Linked DNA regions of Homo sapiens: region 2 is linked to region 1. The links come from fine-mapping of genetic effects on gene expression. A gene starts in region 1. The other region holds a variant in brackets. All regions are shown on one strand. Distances are between the middles of the regions. Region 1 holds the start of IL16 (interleukin 16). Region 2 overlaps IL16 (interleukin 16).

What was found.
Region 2: its variant is fine-mapped to the expression of IL16 in whole blood (TOPMed, PIP above 0.99).

What each region holds. Positions count from the first base shown.
Region 1 is chr15:81,191,428-81,203,261 of GRCh38, forward strand. IL16 (interleukin 16) reads left to right here and starts at 5,452. Exons shown (of 19, transcript NM_172217.5): 1 at 5,452-5,725.
Region 2 is chr15:81,308,966-81,318,704 of GRCh38, forward strand. It overlaps IL16 (interleukin 16), which reads left to right. Exons shown (of 19, transcript NM_172217.5): 19 at 1-5,093. STARD5 (StAR related lipid transfer domain containing 5) reads right to left here. Exons shown (of 6, transcript NM_181900.3): 5 at 9,444-9,537; 6 at 88-4,438. The coding sequence ends at 4,291. Among named protein-coding and RNA genes, the nearest start is that of STARD5, 10 kb to the right of the region's middle. RefSeq lists an enhancer at 3,920-5,119 and a silencer at 6,552-6,631. The variant C/T (reference allele first, on the strand shown) is at 4,306.

The DNA of each region.
Region 1 (11,834 bases):
TAGTCATTTATTCATTCATTTATGCATTGATTCACTCAGTAAATGTTTATCAACCCTTTATGGGCCAGGCATGCTCTAGTGCTGGGGACCCCACAGTGAACAGGCTGATGAGGTCCCTGTGTGGGACCTAGATGGGGCGGATGGGTGGTATGTAAGTACCCAAGCAGACTAACAAGACAGCTTCAAATGCTGGCAAGTTCTATGAAGAAAATAAAATAAGGAGAGGTAACGGTGAGTGCCTGGTTTAGGTTGAGTGGTCAAGAAAGATCCCACTTAGGAGATGGAGTCAGGGAAGAGCCAGCCATATGAAGATCTGGAAGTGGAACTTTCCTGTAAGAGAAAACAGCTAGGGCAGAAGTCTTAGGGTGACAAGGGCATGGCTTATTCAAGAAAGAGCCAGAAGGCCAGGGTGGCTGTGGGATGCAGCGAGCAGGAGAGGCAGAGGTGGAAGCTGGAGTTTGGGAGATAAACAAGGGTGAGATCATTTAGCTCCTTTGGGACACTGTAAGGAATTTGGGTATTATTTTGGAAAACAACGCAAAGCCTTTGGAAGGGGTGGAGCACAGGGCATTTTTGGGGCAGTAAATATATCTCTCTGTCTGATACTACAGTGGTAGATCCATAACGCTATGCACTTGTCAGAACCCATAGAACTGCACAACACAATGGGTGAACCATCACGTAAGCCATGAACTTTAGCTAATAATCATGTATCAGTATTGATTTATCAATTGTAAAAAGGTACCACGCCAATGCAAGATGTTAATAGTATGGGAAATTGTGTGTGTGGAGAGGGAGATCAGTATTCGGGAGTTCTGTACTTTCTATGCAATATTTCTGTAAAGCTAAAACTGCTCAGAACAATAAAGTTTATTAAATTTTTAAAAAAGTGGTTGGGTGCAGTGGCTCATGCCTATAATCCCAGCACTTTGGGAGGCCAAGGAAGGAGGACTGCTTGAGGCCAGGAGTTCAAGACCAGCCTGGGCAACACAGAGAGACCGTGTCTCTACAAAAAAAAAGAAAAAAGAAAAAATAGCCAAATGTGGTGGCATGTGCTTGTTGTCCTAGCTACTCGGGAGGCTGAGGCTGGAGGATTGCTTGAGCCAGGAGTTTAAGGCTGCAGTTAGCTATGATCATACCACTACCCTGCAGCCTGGGCCACAGAGCAAGATGCTGTCTCAAAAACAAACAAACAAACAAAAAACAGTTTTTAAAAGTAATTCAAAGCCCTTGCAAATTTTATGCTGATCCAATTTATATTTTCAAAAAGCCTACCTGCTATTATGTGAAAAATGGATTATGAAGGTCTGCATAGGAACCAGAATCCCAGTTAGAAGGTGAAAGCTATAATCAGACAAGAGGCACTGGTAAGAGGAGGGTGGCGGCAGTGAAGATGGAGAGAAGCGGAAAGAAAGTGGGATAGCTTCTGGGGATAGAGCCAACGAGAATCACTGATAAATTGGATGTGATGTGGAAGGTTAGAGAGATGGAGGGATCAAGATGAATAAAAACTCACAGAGGGCTTATTCTGGCAGGCACTGTTCTAAGAACCTTACAAGTATTACCATATTTAGCCCAAACAAACCTTGTGAGGTGGATGTTAGTGCACTAGCCAGCCTATAGATGACAAAACCAGTCCACAGAGAAGTGCCTTTTTGCCTGCCTATGATCATGCACTTGGGCAGGGACAGACCTGCGAGATGAACCCAGGAATTTTGGCTTCAGAGCCTGTGCTATGTTCTTCCCACCTTGATACTGAGGATTTTGGCTTGGGAAATTGATGGATGCTAGTGACAATTACCAAAATGTGGAAGTTTAGGGAAGAAACATTTTATTAGGGGGGGAATCAAGAGTACTGTTGGCAGTGTTCCTTTTTTTTGCCTCACTGAATAACAGCCAGGCAATGTTACTTTTGAAATTTAAGTTAAACCCCAGCTGAAGATGTTAAGCAAGTGGTAGGAAAAAAGAGTCAGAATTCAAGGAGAAGTCCAGGCCTGGAGAAGTGAATTTGGGAGTTGTTGGCATGTGCGTGGTATATTTGCTTGTGGACTGGCTTCAGTTGCTTGTCGTGATTGTAAGTATCTTAGTGATGGAATATTACTTTGAAAGGATGCAAGCCTGATGGACAGTTTGAAAGAAAAAAAGGCCAGAGAGAGGGCAGCATGGTCTACATGGAAGTCAGCTAGAATTTTCGTATGAAGTTAAAACCCTTGGTTTGAATCTATATGTTGCTGTGGGCCAGGGAAAGAGGGGAAGAGAGCCGGGGAGCGGGAATCAAGGGACCAATGGCTTCTGACTGCACAGCCTTGGACGTGCACTTTTTGGACATGTAACTTCTCTGAGTCTCAGTGTTTGCATCCGTAAGTGGGGACGTACAATAAAATCATCAAGTTTTGGCCTCAACATTCTGTCTAAGTTGAAAGTGCTAAATGCAGAGAGAATTTATTATCATCATGTCCATTACTGTCAGGTTACATTACTAGTAACATTACATTACTAGTTAAAATTGTTACATTACTAGTTAAAATTGTTAAATTATATTCTGCGTCATGTTACATTACTAGTTAAAATTGTTACATTACTAGTTAAAATTGTTAAATTATATTCTGCTCATGATAATACAGTTCGCATGACCAAAAGTGTACAGCATAAAGAATTCCCAAGGCATTTTATAGATTGCAGGACAGCTCTTTGCTCAGACCTCTGAGCAGCCCTGTCAGATTATTGGGTTATTGTTTCCATTTTGTGGACATGGAAACTGAGACTCAGTAAGGTAAAAGGACTTGCAGTTGACAGAGCCGCTTAGTACAGAAGCTGGGGCTTATTGCTCTGACCCTAAGCTCTTTATTTTGCCATTGTTTGAACAGAATAGGAGATGACCCTGTTGTGTCATTTTAAGGACACACTTTCTTTTTGCCTTCTGAATATGTTTACTTGCCACAACAAACATGTATTACTTTTATAACTAAAATTTTGAAATTAAAAATTTTTGTAATTTTAATTTTTTAAATTAAATTTAAATTTGTAATTGTAATTTTAATTTTTAAAAATTAAATTAGAATTTTTAAAATTAAAATTTTTTAAATTAATTTTTCAAAATTTATAATTTTAATTTTGTAATTAAAATTTTTGTAATTAAAAATTTACTTTTGGAAATAAAATTTTGTAATTAAAAAATAGGAGAATTAGAAGGAAATACAGGTTATTGATTATGAAACTTTAGCAAGCATCAGAATCACTTGTTGAACAGATTTCTCAGTTCCGTGGGCTGGAAGGGCCAAAAAGGTGAGCAGGCTTCTGCTTGGTTAGCTGTTGGCAGCATGCTTCCTCCTCTATTGCCTCATTCTCTCAGTAACACTGTGCAGTAGAAGTTTCTAATTTCATCTGGCAGACAATTAATTTCATCTAATTTTCATCGTAGCAAACTAAGGCTGTGAATGACCAAGATCACACAGGAAGCTCTTGGTTGAGCTTCAAGTGGTGCTTGAACTTCCTAGTTCTAACCAGGGCGGGGCTCTCTCACCTGCGTCTTCCTCCCCGTCTCTTCTGGCTTGCAGTGAGCTGGACTATGGAGTGTTGGGCAGGGTGGAGACTCTTTCTGCAGGATGTCCTGAAGGGCAGAGGGGTGATAAAATTTCCACCTTGAAGCACAAACCACCCCGTATTAGGAAAAATCAGGGCCAAGTCTCAACTACACTTTGGAATAAATTTACCTTCTGAGAGTGAGAAAGAACAGATCTTCGGAAAATAGAGGGAGAGGCGGGAACTGGATTCAGGTGCCGATGACAAGAGAGAGCTTAGACTTAGTGGAGGAGGGGGGCTGTGGGGCCCTCCCAGGCCTCAGGATCCAAGAAGGGCAAGGCCAGCCCCCATAGCCCTGGGGTGCTGAATTGCTCCTCAGCCTCTCTGCCAGAGCAAGATGGAAGTGGGGCCTGAGTCTGTCCTGGCCCCACCGCACCCAGGCCATTGTGAGAGAGATTGTGGGTGTGAGCTGAGCAGGCGACACTGACAGAGGCGCTCACTCTCTGCAATTTAGAAATTCCTTCACTGCACTCCAGACTCACTCCAGACTCAGCCCTACAATGTCCCCTGTGCCTGCTGACAAAGGCAGCTTTATCCCCAGAGTGCTCCCTCCTCCCGTGCTTCCCTTGGGACCGTGGGCCTGTGTTCTCCAGCAGCAGCGGCTAGATCTTTGCAGCCTTGCATGGAATTTCAAGGGCTTCCTACAGGTTGCACCTACACCCTCATTAAAGCCCCCAGGAAGCCCTGAAACATTTGGTGCTGAGCGTTGGGAAACATTCCATTCTTTAGAAGAGAGGTCCATACAAAAACCTCAGCCTAGCATGTACACAGGGCTCACAGAGACTGAGCTTAGGAGAGATGTGTGGGATGCTCTTTGCGGGGCAGATGGATTAAATGCCACCTTATGATTAGATTCTCCAAGGGGCTACGTGGGGGAAAGGCACTCTGGTCTCATGACACTAATGCCAACAGGACACACACAAAAGTGCCCCATTCTTTTATGCTGCAGTTTTCAACATGCTCTGTATACGTTAGGTCATGGGCTCTCGCACCTGAGCACGCACCAAAATCACCTGGAGGCTTTGTGAAAACAGAGTGCCAGAGGTGCTGCTTCAGGAGGTCTAGGCCAGGGCCTGAGAACTTGCATTTCTAGCAGATGCTGCTGATGCAGCTGGCTTGAGGACCACTGAGTTACATAAGCTTCTGAGAGCCAGTCTGTTGTTTTTGGGAAAGGGTGGCACAGACAAGAAATGAAATGCTATGGAAAAAGCCTGGGCTTTGGAGACAGGTGGATTTTGACTTGCTAACTTGCTAACTGTGTGACCTTGGGGAAATTCCACGGCACGTAGTAGGTGTTTAATGAACGTTTGTGCAGTGGCTTTCTTTGTCTGCAAAGCAGGTGATATATTTACCAGATTGATGGCAGGATTGTATGTGATGACTTTTTTCCTCTTTTTATTAAATTTTTATATAATTTGAGAGGAGTTCTTGCTATGGTTTGCCCGGGCTTGTCTTGAATCCCCCGGCTCAAGTGATCCTTCTGCCTCAGCCTCCTGAGTAGCTGGGATTATAGGCACGTGCCACAGCTTCCAGCATGTGATGAGGTTTATAGAAAGCTCCTAGCAGCGTGCCAGGCACATTGCAGGCACCGAGTCATGTCTGCTACCTTTCGGCTCTCCTAGTCATTTCTGTGTTGTCCAAAGAAGGCAGGGGCAACTGGGCTGGACCAAGGAACCTCACTGTGGTTCTGTGGCTCTGCACTGGGTTTGCCTCCTGGGTGTTGCCGGCCAGCCCAGCAGATGGTGGACCTTGTTCTGAGGCTGAGCTTCTCAGCACTGGCAGCCCCCCTTTTTGGATCAAGCCTTTTCACGTGGAGCAGTCAGATGGCTCAGATCAGGAGTCTTCGAGCAAATCCATGCCAGGTGGGACACATTTGTCCTGAGTCACCTGTCCAGAGCAGGTGGTGAATATTGTGTCCTACTCACGGCATCTCAACTATCGGAGCCTGGGATCTGACTCAAAGGCCGGCCTCCGTCTGAGAACTGAGCGTCCATTTCTCAATCCTTGCCGGCTCTGACCCAGGCCTGGGCCACAGGCTGTCCGGGAATAAGTGGTGCTGCAATCCCTGCTGGGCAGATGGAGAGAGGAGCAAGGGAGATGGCAGCCCCGGGGGACTGTGCATAGGGAGGTAGGTGGGCACCAGGTGAGTGAATGTCTGTCAGGCAGCTGCTCTGTCCAGGTGGCCGTTACCGGAGGGAGGAAGCTGGCCTCTCTGACCTGAATGGGGAGGGTCTTGGTTGCTAGGACGTAACTTCATATTTGGAAGTGGTGCTGGGGTCAGGGGCAGGAGCAGAAGCCAGGATTGTGTTGGTAGGAATCTCTGTGTCACCATGTCACAGTTAGGTACAGGAGGAAGCAGCTTCAGAAGGCCAGAGCGGGCAGAGGGATATCGCTTGACCTGGCTCTGCAGCACGGGGAGAATTTGGTCCTGAGATTTCTGACTTTTCAGCCTCGTCTCATCCTTGGCAATGGGGTGTGGAAGGAGGTGGAGGAAAGGAAGGCAGCAGGAGAGAGAAAGGCCACGGGGCACCTGATGGGGGCTTCTCTGCTGCCTGGCCAGACTCCTTTTCTCCAAAGTGGGCACAGCGGGTGGGCATCTCTGCAGATTGACCATGGGAAAAGTGTTCACTCTGCTTGCTTTTTGATAAGGGTCCCGTGACTAATTCCTGCATTGGTAGGTCCCAGGATTGGTGTTTTTTTGTTTTTGTTTTTTGTTTGTTTGTTTTTTTCTTTTTTGGTCCATAGCAAGTTTGCTTTCTGTAGCTGGAGAATGAGGTAACAGCATAAGAATAGAGGTTCCCTGTGGAATACAGGGAAGCATCTTCTCCTCCTGCCCTTATCAGGTGAAATCCTCCCACTTCAGGCTGAGCCATACAAAGACGACCCCTTTGTCCCAGGAGGCCAGTTCAAGCTCCCACTGGGTTCCTGGAAGCAGCCTGGGAGCTGCCGTCTCTGTGGCTCCCCTTCCTATTTCTCCAGTTTCCCCCGGAAGGAGAAGACCGTTCAGCCTTTTTCCTCCTCTGTTCTCCTTCTTTACCCTGAAGTTAAGTGATGGTCAACATTTACGAGCACAGTAGAAGGCACCTCCCCTGCTGCAGATATGACGTGGGCATGAGCCGTCAGGTGGGTCAGACCCTTGAAGCCTCTACTGCTCATTTATTCAATCCCCAGTGAGTCTTTTAAATAAAACTTAGTACCCCAACCATTTCCTGGCCACTCTTCAAGCCCCAGGCACCAAGCTAAAATATTCACATACCTCATTTAATTTAAACCTTACAACAACCTGGAGCTTAGGGAGTATATCCCCAAACCGAGAGGTGAGGAGGCTTGCACAGGACCACTCAGCTAGACGTTCCCAGGACCCAAACCCAGCTTGACTCCAAAATCCATGCTCTCACTGGCTTTGTGGCATGCCTCAATAAATACTTGAGTTTCCTCAACACAAAGATGGTCATATATCCATAGGGTTAAAAAATAATCTCTGTTGGATGCAATTGACTATAGAATTATTATTTTCTAATTGTTTGTATTCATGGAAACCTTTTTAGAATTAAAATCTATCATGAAAACTCATGTATAATCAGTTAAGGCAGAATTATTTTGGCAGAGGCAGACCAGGACCTTGAGACCTGCCCTTTTGTCAACCCCTCCCCCTTTCTGGTTCCCAGCAGTGGCCCAGGGGTATAGGAGTGAGAGGGAGGGAGGTACACTTTGAATTGAAATCTACTGGCCAGGTACAGTGGCTCACGCCTGTAATCCCAGCAATTTGAGAGGCCGAGGCGGGCGGATCACTTGAGGTCAGGAGTTCCTGACCAGGCTGGCCAACATGGTGAAACCCTGTTTCTACTAAAAATACAAAAATTAGCCAGGCGTGGAGGCACATGCCTGTAATCCCAGCTACTCAAGAGGCTGAGGCAGGAGAATTGCTTGAACCCGGGAGGCGGAGACTGCAGTGAGCCGAGATCATGCCACTGCACTCCAGCCTGGGTGACAGAGGGAGACTCCATCTCAAAAAAAAAAAATATATATATATATATATATATATATATATAAAATACATATTTTTTATTGTGCATTTGAATTGGTAATACATTTTCATATATAGGTTACGTTTTGCTATTAAAAAGCAATTCATTGTGAATAGCAATATGCTCATAAACACGGGGAGAAAATAGGCATGGGGCAAAATAAACAAATAGTTCCAAGAACTTGGAGTTGTGGTTAACTAGGAAGGCAGCTTGAAATCAGGAATTTACTTCAAGTTCTTCTTTTGAATTCCTGTTGAAATAAGGACGAATCTATGTCAGTCTTGTAAACTAGACAGTGTTGCTCAGTGTGTGCCAGAAACACTGAGAAGTCTCAGTGGATGTCTCAGGTGGATGTGAAGGACGTTGGGTGGAAGGGCGGAGCCCATCAGGAGGGAGGCGCTGTTCTTGCCACATCTGGAGATGCTGGAGGAGAGGTTTGCTTTGAGTGGGAGCAACTGGTAATGCTGGACAGTGACCCGATGCTGGGATCCCGCGTGGAGATCTCCATCGGTCTTGCCCCTGGCTGAGTCTTGGCATGTGCAGCTGGGATGGAAATGCTCCTCCAGTGGACAGTTACAGCAGCTAAGACATGGCTACCTTGCTCAGCCAATAGGAGGCGGTCACCTACAAACATCCCTTCCAAAGGTTCAAGGCTCCCCTGAGAACTTGGATGCTGGGGAATGGTGCACCTTCCCTGCTGCTCACTGCACCTCTCACCTGGCAAAGAAAAGCCACAGGAAATCTAAGCCCTTTCTGCAGTCTGGCATCGGCATATGAAAGATTCCAACGAGGAATTTCAGAACTCATCCCAGCTCCCGAATCTGAGTAAGCACAGACCTCTTGAGTAGGGCTGAGCAAATGCGGCAAAATCAATGCACATATGACAAGATTCAGTGGCCCAAAGAAGGGAGCTAAATGAGGAATCAAAGCAAATACCCCATATGGAATTGCTGTAAAAAATCAGAGAAAACCTGAAAGTAGTGGTTTTCAAGCATGACCCACTAGTGGATTGAAAATCAACTTAGCGGGTTGGAACCAACTTCCTTTTTCTAAAACAAAAAAAGAATAGCATACATCAGATTGCATCAGGTTCTTAGCAAAATCATATTTTATATTATCTTTTTCATACCAAAGATATTTTATATTATTTTTATTATACCGTAGTAAAGGTATTGTTTCATGAAAGTTTTTAGTTATATATATTTATTTATTTATGTATACATATAAATCTTATGTGTATGTGATCCATGTACTATGATGTAAAATGTAAATTATTATGGTAAGTCAAGATTTTTTTAATTTTTAAAATTCTTTAAAAATTATTTTTATTTATTTATCTATTTATTTTTTGAAACAGGGTCTCACTCTGTTGCCCAGGCTGGAGTTCAGCAGTGCAATCCCGGCTCACTGCAGCCTTGACTCCGTGAGCTCAGGTGATTCTCCCCCTTCAGCCTCCCGAGTAGCTGGGACTACAGGCACACGCCACCACACCTGGATAATTTTTTGTATTTTTATTAGAGATGGGGTTTTGCCATGTTGGCCAGGCTGGTCTCAAACTCTTGAGCTCGAGTGATCTGCTCGCCTCAACCTCCCAAAGTGCTGGAATTAAAGTCGTGAGCCACCATGCCTAGCCTAGGTCAAGATTTTAAAAGTTTCATAAATAGTCCTGTAGAACACTGGGTGGAGTTTGGAATGGTGAAAATGTGTCAGGAGAGTATTGTAACTGAAATATTCCTGATCTTCTCTTTCAAAAAGATGGCCTTCTTCCCATTATCCAAGGCAAGGATTTCAGGCCTGAGTCAGCCATAAGCTCATCTGTCTTTTTTTCTGTACTTACCTCCTCATAAATGGATTAAGAGAGCCTCGAGCAATGGTGAGGGTTGGAGAAGGTGGACAGGTGGCCCAGTCTTATGCGCTTTCCCTCTCTTCCTTCCTTCTCCTCATCCTCCAAGGATGGTTGTAGCCAACTCCAGCCAAAGTGCAGATGCCAGAGAATCCTGCAGCAGTTGCTGAGAACACAGGATACCTGTCACATTTACTGAAGCAGTGGCAGGACAATGCATCCCCTGCATTGAGCTAGTTGTCAGAAGCAGAAAATAAAAAGTGTGTGTGTGTCTCTGTGTGTGTGTGTGTGTATGTGTGGTGAAAAAGAGAAATATATCTAAAAATAATCTTAAAAGACATGATATGTAATTTCTTACCAAAACTCAAGCCAAAGCAATCACACATACACCCACACACATGCACGCACACACCCCCATCCACACACACACACACAGAAGTAAATGACAGCAGTTGGACCATCAAAATCTGAAAAATTCTTTCAGGCCAAAGACTCCATAATGCTCTATAGCTGTTATTTTGCATTTCTTTGAATCTCCTCTCAGTTCTATTTAGAGATCACGAAATGTCTAATTTAATGGCCCTGCCCTTAGTTCTCCAGGAAGGAGATCTTAGTTGTTCATCCACGAACAACTTTTTGAGCCACTTTCCTACTTCTATTTCTTCCAGTAGGCAGATCATATTTTGGGTTTCTTTGTTTTAAGTTTGTGGTTTTTGTTTTTCCCTCTTTTTCTTTTTAGGTTGTAGTTAAGTGGTGTATACAAATTTATTAGCAATTTATTATATTGCCACTTTGTATTTTAATCTTTAATATTAAATTTTGTGTTTGGTAAAAATGCTGTAATTAGTAAAATGTAGAGTAATCAGTTTTTACCCATTCTCTGCTCTTCAATAACAGCTTGTTGAGTATTCTCTCTGATTTATTCTAGCATCAGACACACACACGCGCACACACTGTGCTGCAGCATGTTTTGTTTTCCAATTCTATGTAGCACAAAAAGACTTAACCTCATTCTTCTCCATATCTCAACAGTATTCCATGTATCTTGATGATCACTTACAATATAAGGCAAGTAAGCATAGGCAATTCATCAGATTTGAACCAGAGATGGGGTTACTAAGTGAACTATTAGTTCCCCAGAAGAATTAGCCCAAGCAAAGGTGTTGTACAGTATGTAAAATGTCTTTTCCTACTTTATACATTTTATCTGGCCAGAGAACACCTTTAAACATTAAATGCAATCATCCTTAGTCATTCAACAAATATTTACTGAGCAATTGATAGAGGCCATTCGCCAAGCTAGGCCTCATGGATCAACTCGAAATATGACAGACAGACTCTGCCCTCAGGGAGCTTAGAGTTCAGTAGACATGACCAGTGGTGACACAAGCCACTGGAGTAGCATCAGATGAGTGCTTTGGTAGTGGAAGAACCTGTTCTCAGAGCACAGACAGCTTTGGGGGTCTGTATTGGTTTGTGGTTTCATTTTAAAGAAGTGTTATCCAAAAATAGGGTTTGAAGAGTGATGAAAATTTAGCATCATCAAGGACTATAGAAAATTTGGAAGGCATATCTCCTAATGCTATCCCTCCCCCCTCCCTACACCCACAACAGTCCCCAGTGTGTGATGTTCCCCTTCCTGTGTCCATGTGTTCTCATTGTTCAATTCCACCTATGAGTGAGAACATGCAGTGTTTGGTTTTTTGTCCTTGCAATAGTTTGCTGAGAATGATGGTTTCCAGTTTCATCCATGTCCCTACAAAGGACATGAACTCATCATTTTTTATGGCTGCATAGTATTCCATGGTGTATATGTGCCACATTTTCTTAATCCAGTCTATCATTGTTGGACATTTAGGTTGGTTCCAAGTCTTTGCTATTGTGAATAGTGCCCCAATAAACATACGTGTGCATGTGTCTTTATAGCAGCATGATTTATAATCTTTTGGGTATATACCCAGTAATGGGATGGCTGGGTCAAATGGTATTCCTAGTTCTAGATCCCTGAGGAATCGCCACACTGACTTCCACAATGGTTGAACTAGTTTACAGTCCCACCAACAGTGTAAAAGTGTTCCTATTTCTCCACATCCTCTCCAGCACCTGTTGTTTCCTGACTTTTTAATGATCACCATTCTAACTGGTGTGAGATGATATCTCATTGTGGTTTTGATTTGCATTTCTCTGATGGCCAGTGATGATGAGCACTTTTTCATGTGTCTGTTGGCTGCGTAAATGTCTTCTTTTGAGAAGTGTCTGTTCATATCCTTCACCCACTTTTTGATGGGGTTGTTTTTTTCTTGTAAATTTGTTTGAGTTCATTGTAGATTCTGGATATTAGCCCTTTGTCAGATGAGTAGGTTGCAAAAATTTTCTCCCAT
Region 2 (9,739 bases), 120 kb after region 1:
AAGGTTGTTCCTAAAATAAGGGCAGAGTCACACGGGGGCAGCTGATACAAATTGCAGACTGTGTAAAAAGAGAGCTTAATGATAATATTGTGGTGCCACAAATAAAATGGATTTATTAGAATTTCATATGACATTCATGCCTGGCTTCGCAAAATGTTTCAAGTACTGTAACTGTGTCATGATTCACCCCCAAACAGTGACATTTATTTTTCTCATGAATCTGCAATGTGGGCAGAGATTGGAATGGGCAGCTCATCTCTGTCCCACTTGGCATCAGCTGGCGTCATGCAAAGTCATGCAAAGGCTGGGACCACGTGAGATCATTCACTCATACATCTGGCCGTTGATGTTGGCTGGGAACTCACCTGGGGCTGCTGGCCTGAATGCTTATAGGTGGCCTCTCCTTGTGGCCTGGGCCTCCTCACAACATGGTGTCTGGATTCCCAGGATGAGCATCCCAGGATCGCAAGAGCCATGTAGAAGCTGCATCTTGTTTATACCTTTGCCTTGGAAGTTGCATGGCATCACCTCCACCATACTCCATCAGTTAGAGCTGACACAAACCTGCCTGGGTTTAAGGGGAGAGGAAATATTGCTGGGGTCATTTATGAAAAATACAGTTTGTCACATGAAACATTTGCAAAATTGTTTTTGGTTGGATTGGAGAAGTAATCCTAGGGAAGGGTGGTGGAGCCAGTAAACAGAGGAGTACAGGTGAAGCACCAAGCTCAAAGCGTGGACAGGTGTGCCGACAGAAGGAACCAGCGTGTATATGAGGGTATCAAATAAAATTGCTACTACTTACCTACCACATGCCAAGCACTGTGCTCAGGGCTAAACGGGCATTGCCTTTAGTGATCACAGCAGCTTCTACGGTGTATGGTTCTGTGCCAATGTATTGATAAGAGGGCACACACTGTGTACAGTAAATGGCTTATCCAGCTGGTGAGTGATGCGGCAGATTGAGTTTTCTTCTGTGATTCGGTGGAGACTATCAGCCCAAGATGCTTTAAGTGCACAACATTACAGGGAATGCCTGAGTGCCTGGCCAAAGGGATATTTGGTTTGGCCATCTCTGGATGCCTGATTGCCAAGCTCAGGACCAGGCAATGTGACTTTGCATCAGCAACAACCAGCATCCCTTGACCAGGCCTGGGCCAGAGTATTGGTCTCCTCTCAGCCCCTGATCCTGTGAAGTAAGGATGTGGGGGAAGACCTGGCAAGGACACAGATGAAACACAAACAATAGTAATTCTCAGGCCATCATCAGTGGAGCCATGTTAATGTAATCTGATGGCTTCTCCAGGGTCCACAGGAAGTGAAGAATCTGTTTCCCAGCAGTGGACTCAAAACCCATCTGGGCTCCTAACCTTCCTGTAAACCCCTTTAGTGGCTTCATTAGAGCAGGCGTTCAGCTCACTGTTCTATTCATCTCAAGGAATAATGGGCTTAGAGCAGTTTCTGTCCTGCTGGTTAACTTGTTTGGCCTATTCCATTCTGGATTTTGTCAAGCAGTAGACAAGCAATTAGACAAGAACTTGGAGGCACCATTTGTATCCACTTTTTAGACTTAATAGAAACATTGAAGATGAACATAATCTACCAACGAAAGACGTGATTCAATTCAACACTCCCTTCCCATGACCCAGGCTGGGCAAGGAGGCCACGTGATGTGGAGGGCACATTCCTTGCCTGCACAAACTCACCATCTGTGCACGCAGTGGCCTTCCCTAAAATCAGGGAATTGTTTTAAGTCTTATCAAGCAGCCAAGGGATGAAAGAGAAGGTGGGTTTTCATCAAGACTGGAAGGTGGGGACAGGGATGAGCATGGAGCTGGCCGTGGGCCTGGGGTACCAAGAGACTCCTTGAGAGACCAGGCAAAGCAAGTGATTGGGACAGAGGTTATCTGTCCCAGGTTATCTGGGCATAGATGCAGGTGAGCCCATGGCCCTCCCAGTACCTCCTGTCTCTGGCCTGTTTTAGAAGGTTCTCTCCTCCCCAAGGAGACACAACAACTCCTAGGGCCACTGAAGATATAACTATTGCCCAGGTTTCTGGTCTCTAGGCTGGGGAAGTCCTCTGGGTAGGAATCAGCAAGAAGATCCTAAAACAAAAGCTCATCCATTTGCGTTCCATGATGCTGGGATTTACACTTGAGGCTTAGCTTTGCTCTGCCAACTTCTTCAGAGCTGACACAGGATGAAGGCAATGCCATCCTCAAACACTGCAGGCATCACAGCTAACAATTGTGAAGTCGTCTTAACTCACCATAAAAAGGAATCCACTCCCAGGCAGCCCTACTTCTTTGCTTTGCCCAGCATTTTACTGATTCATACATTATCTCACTTGTGCCAACACTCAAGAAGCAGGCTACACTGACACTGGTATTCCTGCCTCCATATTTTCTTTAAAAGACAAATCAAAGCAGATATATTAAGTGACTGTTCAAGAGCACACTTGGCCCAAGTGGCAGAGCTTGGACTGGATGCATGTTTTCCAGCTCCTCATCCAGGGCTCTGACCAGTTTAACCTGATGCAGTCACGTGGAGGAGCAGTGCAGGCACAGTATGTCCCATAGGCCCAGTGAGATGCATTCTTGGTTGGCTGGCCTTCCACTTGGCTACACAGGGATGTACAAGGCGATCCCATCTTGATAAGACCACCACCTCAGAGTATGGAGCTCAGAGAGGGCAGGCATGAAGTTTCCTTGGCTGGTGCACCTAGAATTGGCTGAACTCATGAGAAGTTGATATAGAACAGTGCTTGCCACAGAGCGGGGACTCGGTAAGCACTTAATGAATGAATGAATTCTAAGTCAATCCAAGAGTCTGATGATTTCTTGAAAAGGGTGTTAGCTAAAGGATCTTAGGCATGACTGTAGAATTTGTAGTTGCAATAGAACAGAGAAAGAGGAAGCTTTCTGTCTCCTTAACACTGAGCTGTCATGTTTTAAAGCTTGCTCACATCTTGGCACATTTAAGAGACAGTCACCCCAGGACTCAAAAATAGGGAAGTAACAGTAACGCAGGGGAAACGTTTTCTGTTTGGAGGAGCAAAGGCTGAGAACACTGTGAAAACATTTTGCGCGCACAATAGTAACCTGGGTAAATGCAGCGTGAAGGGATTTTAGTCACACGTGGTCTTTCTTACAAGGAAGGTGGTGGGGGTGCAGATGAGGTTGCTAGAGAATGTTAGAGGATCCCTCTCTGGATTGGAGATAGGGAAAGAAAGTTGCACGGCTGCTGAGGCCCCTTCTAGGTGGCAAGGCTGTGCTCCCTGGTTCTGATGATGTGCCTGGGTGGACATGGCCCCTGTGAGTTTGTACAGTCTTGCAGCAGGATCTAGAGGGGGGATTTCCAGCCAGGGCTGCTAGACGGAGGCCTACTCTTCCATCTTTCCTGATGGCAGGATGGCCTGGCCAGGGCCTGGAAGACAGAGACCTCCTGCCTCCGCCTCAGTAAGACGACAAGGAAAGGCAAATGCCCAAGGGAAAGAAAAGGAAGGCTCTTCTCCCCAGAGTTCCCCATGCAGACATGAGTGCGTGCTCAGTTCAGAATCACTTCTGAGAACTCATCCCTAATGCTGCAGATTTGGGCTGGAACAGATTCACACTGTCTGGTTTCACCGAGGACATGAAACTCCACCTTGCGGGGATAAAGAGAGAAAAACAAATTCATCAAATGGAAGACACATTGAAAGTGTTTTTCCTTAATGCTTATCCTGTTTTTAAACCATTATTTCCAAGTTGACACCTTTTTTAAGGAAAAATAAATATTTTGCGGCATTAAAGCCATATACAAGGTCTATATCAGAAAAATATATTTGGGGGGCTGCAGCACAGGACTGAGGGAGCGGTACATGCTTAAAAGGCAACAGGGCCTGGTTTTCAGTGGCGATGATGATTCTCTATGACAGTCAGGGAAACGTGGTCTCTGAGAGTGATGGGCACATAAAGCCTTGGTGCCAGAGTGCATCGCATGGTGTCCAGGCCGAGTCTCTGTCAGATGGTTAGAGGCCTGGGTCTACCCTGCCAGGAGAGGCGTGTTTGGGTAACAGGCAGATGGAGTTTGGAACACATGAATGGCTCATCACACGCCAACCCTGAGTGGGGCAGGAGGCAGGAAGGGTGGGCTGCCGCCTCTGGTTGGCATTCTCAGAGATGCGCAGTCCATCAGCTTGTTCCAAAGAGTGAACACAGGCCTCTGCGTGCTCCCAGGCTCCTTGGTGTCCCAACAGCTGGAGCTCCTCGATGAGTCACGGGAGTTCTTTGCCAAGAAGTAACGATAGCATTACTCATGGAATTG[C/T]TTCACTGCTTTCTGAAGGTTGGCATAAAACCGGGTCATGCTGCGGGGGAAGAAGGAGTCCACCACGTTCTGTGGGAGGTAACCGCTGAGGTCGGTATGGAAGAATGTGACCAGGTTGGTCTTGGTGGGTTCCCTGTGAAGGCAACAGCAGAGCTGTGTTATGATCTGCAGCAGAGGTGCTGGGGACGAGCGCCAGGCAGGTGAGCAGAGCCCAGCCCAGTGGAAATGGCCATGATACAGTGATCGCGTCTCATCCCTTGCTGTGCCCTCCACCCAGGAGTCCTCTCTGGACCTGCTGATTTTCAGGATGGAAACCCATCCTGTCGGGGATGCATTCCACAGCCTCTCCCGGCCTCCAGGGAGGAAGAAGTCCCTACTCCCAGCCCAAAAACCCAGTACCCTGCTGCCCGATTCACTCAGCAAATGCTTTCAGAGAACTCACTTTGTGCCAGGCCCTGAGAGGAACGAAGAGATGCTGCCCTTCACTATTTAGGGTCTGCAACCTCCTGGGGGCTCCTGGGACCCTTTCAAGGGGTCTACAAAGTTAACACTATTTTTATAACAACACGAACATGTGATTCGCCTTCTCTCACATGCATACAGTGGGGTTTTCCGGAGGTTACATGATATGTGATATTGCAACAGACTACACGCACAAGCAGGTATGAGTTTCTGTTAAGCCTGGCATGAAAGAGATGGGCAAAAATATAAAAACAATGCCACTCTTTTCACAGTATTTTTTGTTTTAAAAAAATAGTTTTTTAAAATAAAAATGTTATCTATGTTAACATGCAGTGCATTTTTATGTTAAAATATTTTTAACATTTCTCAAATTTACCAGTTACAATTTCAAATACATCAAATAATGATAGCTATAACCCCCAAGAACAAAGGCCCTATGAAGCCCTCAAATATATGTAAGGGTATAATAATGCCTTATGCCAAAATTTTGAGAACTGCTATTTAGAGAACTGGCGAATAATTTGAGCACCTATGAAGGGATTTTGGCCAAGGGGTGGCAGAAGCTCAGAGGACGGCAGGTGGCACAGATGCTGACTGGAAGTCCAGAATCAAAGGGGCACACGATGTGGAGATGGAACACAACTTGGTAGGGACAGGAAGCGATCTTCACTGTGACAAACTTCTCAACGGCCAGGACAACAAAGGTGGTATAGGCTTTGTGGTGTGCATTTGGCATTTTACTTGAATGCAACTGTCCACTCAGCCTCACCAGGAACCCCAGGTAGCACTATGCCTGCCCATCAGATGTTTCCTGACATCATGCAGGCTACAGGTTTGGAACTGGAGACCTTTTAGAATCCCACTCCCCAGGGCCAAGCACGGTGGCTCATGCCTGTAATCCCAGCACCTTTGGGAGGTCGAGGCAGGTGGATCACCTGAGGTCAGGAGTTCGAGACCAATCTGGACAACAAGGGGAAACCCCATCTCTACTAAACATACAAAAGTTAGCCAGGCATAGTGGCAGGTGCCTATAATCCCAGCTACTCAGGAGGCTGAGGCAGGAGAATCGCTTGAACCTGGGAGGCGGAGGTTGCAGTGAGCCGAGATTACACCATTGCACTCCAGCCTGGGTGACAAGAGCAAAACCCCACCTCAAAAAAGAAAAAAAAAAAAAAAAAAAAAAGAATCTCACTCTTCAAGTCATACAGAAGGACAACTGGGGCATGGAACAGGATGGGGCCAGCAGATCCACAAGGTGGGAGAGCATGTGCTCCTCTGGGCTGTGGCTTTTCTCCTCTGCTTGTGCCCTGCTTCCCCAAAGAGGGTGAACTCCAGGGGACAGAGACTTCCTTCCATCTCAAAGTCCTAGCATCATCCGCACTCCACCTTTCCCTCACCCACCAACCCCTGCCCATCCCGCCTCTGCTAGAGCCTTCTCTCTCCTCCCTGCTCCTCCTCCCAATGGGCTTCCTCTGGCCCGCATCACCTCTCAGCAGCATCCTCTTTGGAAACATGAACAGGTGAGTGAGAAATGAGACTCCGTGATCATGTTTCCCTCTGGGTGAGGAATGGGCTTTGTGGTGGGCGGAACGTGTGAGAGGCCATGTGGGATGGGACAAACTCTCTTCGTCACAGTGGCCTTGGTGAGTGGTAGCTCTTGCATGTACACCATTATGTGACAACAACAGAAAGGGCAAAAGGGGGCACAGAGGAATTGTAGGTCACCCAGTCTCCCCTCAGAAAAGGCTGGGATGAAGGCATCCACTACGGTTGCTAGAAGGATTTAATGAGAGTAGGTGTGACGCACTTAGCATCCTTCCTGTGCACAGTGCAAGTGCTCCAGAAATGACACTGTAATGCTGCCTCGACCACAGATACAGGCTCCTCCACCTTAAGAACACCTTTCCCCCGCCCCCCGCGCCACTTGGAGCTCAACCACCACCACCTCTGGCCTCAACACCACCTCACCCCCAATGAGTCCTCTTGCCCTCTTGCTCACAGCCTCTTACTCAAGAGAGCAAGAGGAGAGAGAAGGCCCTAGCAAAGGCGGGATGGGCAGGGGTTGGTGGGTGAGGGAGAGGGTGGAGTGCAGACGATGCTAAGGCTTTGAGATGGAAGGAAGTCCCTGTCCCCTGGAGTTCACCCTCTTTGGGGAAGCAGGGCATCATAGCAGTTAAGACCAAAGTCAGACCATGTCCTGCTCAGGCCTCCCCAGTGGCTTCCCATTTTATTCAGAGGAAAGTCCCCAACAGGCTGCGGCCCCTGCTACCTCATGGGCCGAATGTCCTAGCCTCTCCTCTTGCTAACACAACACCTCCCTCTGTGCTGTTCCTCAAAGGCCCCGCTCTTGCTCCGGCTCCTGCTCCCACTTCTGGGACTTTGCATCTGCTCATCCCCCTGCCAGAATGCTCGCTCCACCAACACGCCCAAGACTCCCTGCATTTGTGCCTTGCTCAAACGTCTTATTAGGGAAACCCCCTAGATAACCCACTCACACCTTTCCCTGGCACCTTTATCTGGGTTTAGTTTTCCCCAAGGCACTTAACGTCTGATACTTACTAGCACATCCACGAGATAGAACTACTTACATTTGTGTTTTGTCTGTCTCCTCCTGCCTTCATTGGAATCTAAGTTCTAAGAGGGCAGACACTCTAGCTGTTTTGAGACATCAATATCTGGGTTAAGAGCCCAGATTCTGGAGCCAGATGGCCAGAATGAGACTGTGGCTCTCTTACTTGCTGGCTGTGTGACCTTGGGTTAGTTACTAAACCTCTCTGTGCACCCACCATTCTTATTTTAAAAATGAGGATCACAACAGTGCCTTACGGTTGTTATAAAAACAGTTAATTTATATGAAGTGCTTACAATAGTGGCTGACACACAGTAATGCTGTATAAATGTTTGCTGCTGCTGCTGCTGTTATTATTGTCTGCTGAATCTAGGGTCCAGAATAGGCCTATCTTCACAGAATAATAAGAGAATAATCATTGTCACAGATTTCAGATCCACAGCCTCATGAGAATAACTGCACACAGCAGGCTCTGGAAGAAAGCTTTACAGAGAACACGTGATGTTTTTAATCAAGTGGAGAGGAGTTGGAAGAGTCAACACTTGAGTTAAAACCTTCATATGGGCAGGGTTTTGTGGGACCCCAACCACCCTCTCAGCAAAATCCATGCAATCGGGCCAGGCGCGGTGACTCACGCCTGTAATCACAGCACTTTGGGAGGCCAAGACGGGGATCATTTGAGGTCAGGAGTTCAAGACCAGCCTGGACAACATGGTGAAACCCCGGCTCTACTAAAAATACAAAAATTAGCCAGGCATGGTGGCAGGCACCTGTAATCCCAGCTACTCGGGAGGCTGAGGCAGGAGAATCGCTTGAGCCTGGGAGGCAGAGGTTGCAGTGAGCCAAGATTGCACCACTGCACTCCGGCCTGGGTGACAGCCAAACTCCGTCTCAAAAAAAAAAAAAAAAAATCCATGTGATACCTTTGCTACCTGGCATGAGGGCGTGATGCTACCCATTATATTGTGCATTCCACCAAAAAGAAGACAGCAATGGGATTCAGCCCCTCAGAAGGAAGGACTCTGCCTCTTATTCTGAAAATTCCTCTCTGTCAGACCCGGCACCACTGAAAGGTGAGTCTTAGCATCTGACTACCAGGTGGGAGAGGACAAGGAAATGAGCCCAGGCCAGGGGATCCAGGGCACCTATATATTGGGAGAACTGAAACTGAGTGCAGGTGTGTATGTCTGTGTGTGGTAGAGCACAGCTGTGCTATTTTCAAACTCAAAATTTTGTTACATCTAAGAAAAGTCTTCACATGATGTCTGAAAAGCCAGCTTAGCAAAGAGGGTAACATAAAGGTGCTAGGTCTGGGCTTGGTATAATCCCACGACACCGAGGCCCACCTCCTGGGACAATGTGGTAGAAGGACAGACCCCTTCCCTCCGGGTGTCTGTATGGAGACTGCAGGGAACACCGGGACACACCTGCAAGGCACAGTTTCTTTTGCTGTCAACATGCATGATTCCCAGGGTAAACAAGGGACCTTCAGGTAATTCATTACACAGAAATTTCCTGGCAAGAGCCTGGCCATGACCTGTGGCAAAATGGGAACAGAGAGTCCCCGGGGTCAATTCTGAGGCTGACTTACAGTGTGGTCTCAGAACTGCCCTTTAGGCCTGAGTTCCGCCACATTCCTTGCCGAGGAGAGATGATCACTGAGTGAAATGTGGGGTGGGGACTGCTATCCTCAAAGCTGCTCCTGCCTGGCGGAGGGTATTCAGGGAGGACTCGGAGCACAGACCCTGCCCTGCCAACCTCCTAGCCTTTGAGTCAGGACACATCACTGAACCTCCCCAAACCTCAGTTTCCTCATTTGCTAAATGGACCATGACATTTGCTTAACCTGGAGGCTGCAGGGAAAATTTCCTGCATCAAAAATAAGAGTAACGCCTCCCCTCAATTCTTTCCCACATGCCAGGTACTCTCAGGAGGTTCTGCTTATGCAGATGTGTGTGAAAGTATTTTGTATCGTCACAATCTAAAGAGCTATAAGGCATTTTTCTTCTTTTGAATCGTAGTCAAAGTGCCCCTTTTCACAGAAGGTCCACAGGGAAGTCACAGTTAGGTCTGAGCCATGTACCTCAATGCAGGAAATTATCCTTACCCTGGAAGAGGTTCACAGAAGCAACCACAAGGATGGTTAAATCCTCTCACAAAACCTGGCTTCGGGGGACATAACGGATGCTCCACATGGGTGGCTGGAAGACAGTGCAGAATCTCGGTGAGTTACAACTTCAGACGGTCAGGTCACTGCCATTGGGGTGCCATAGAGCACACAGACCAGACTACCTGCAGCCCTGGAGTCTGTGAGGGACTCCTGCCTCTTGGCGTGAGTTCCCCCTACTCCCACCCTACTGCCCCTTACACTCACACATACAAATACACTCTCACATGCGTGTA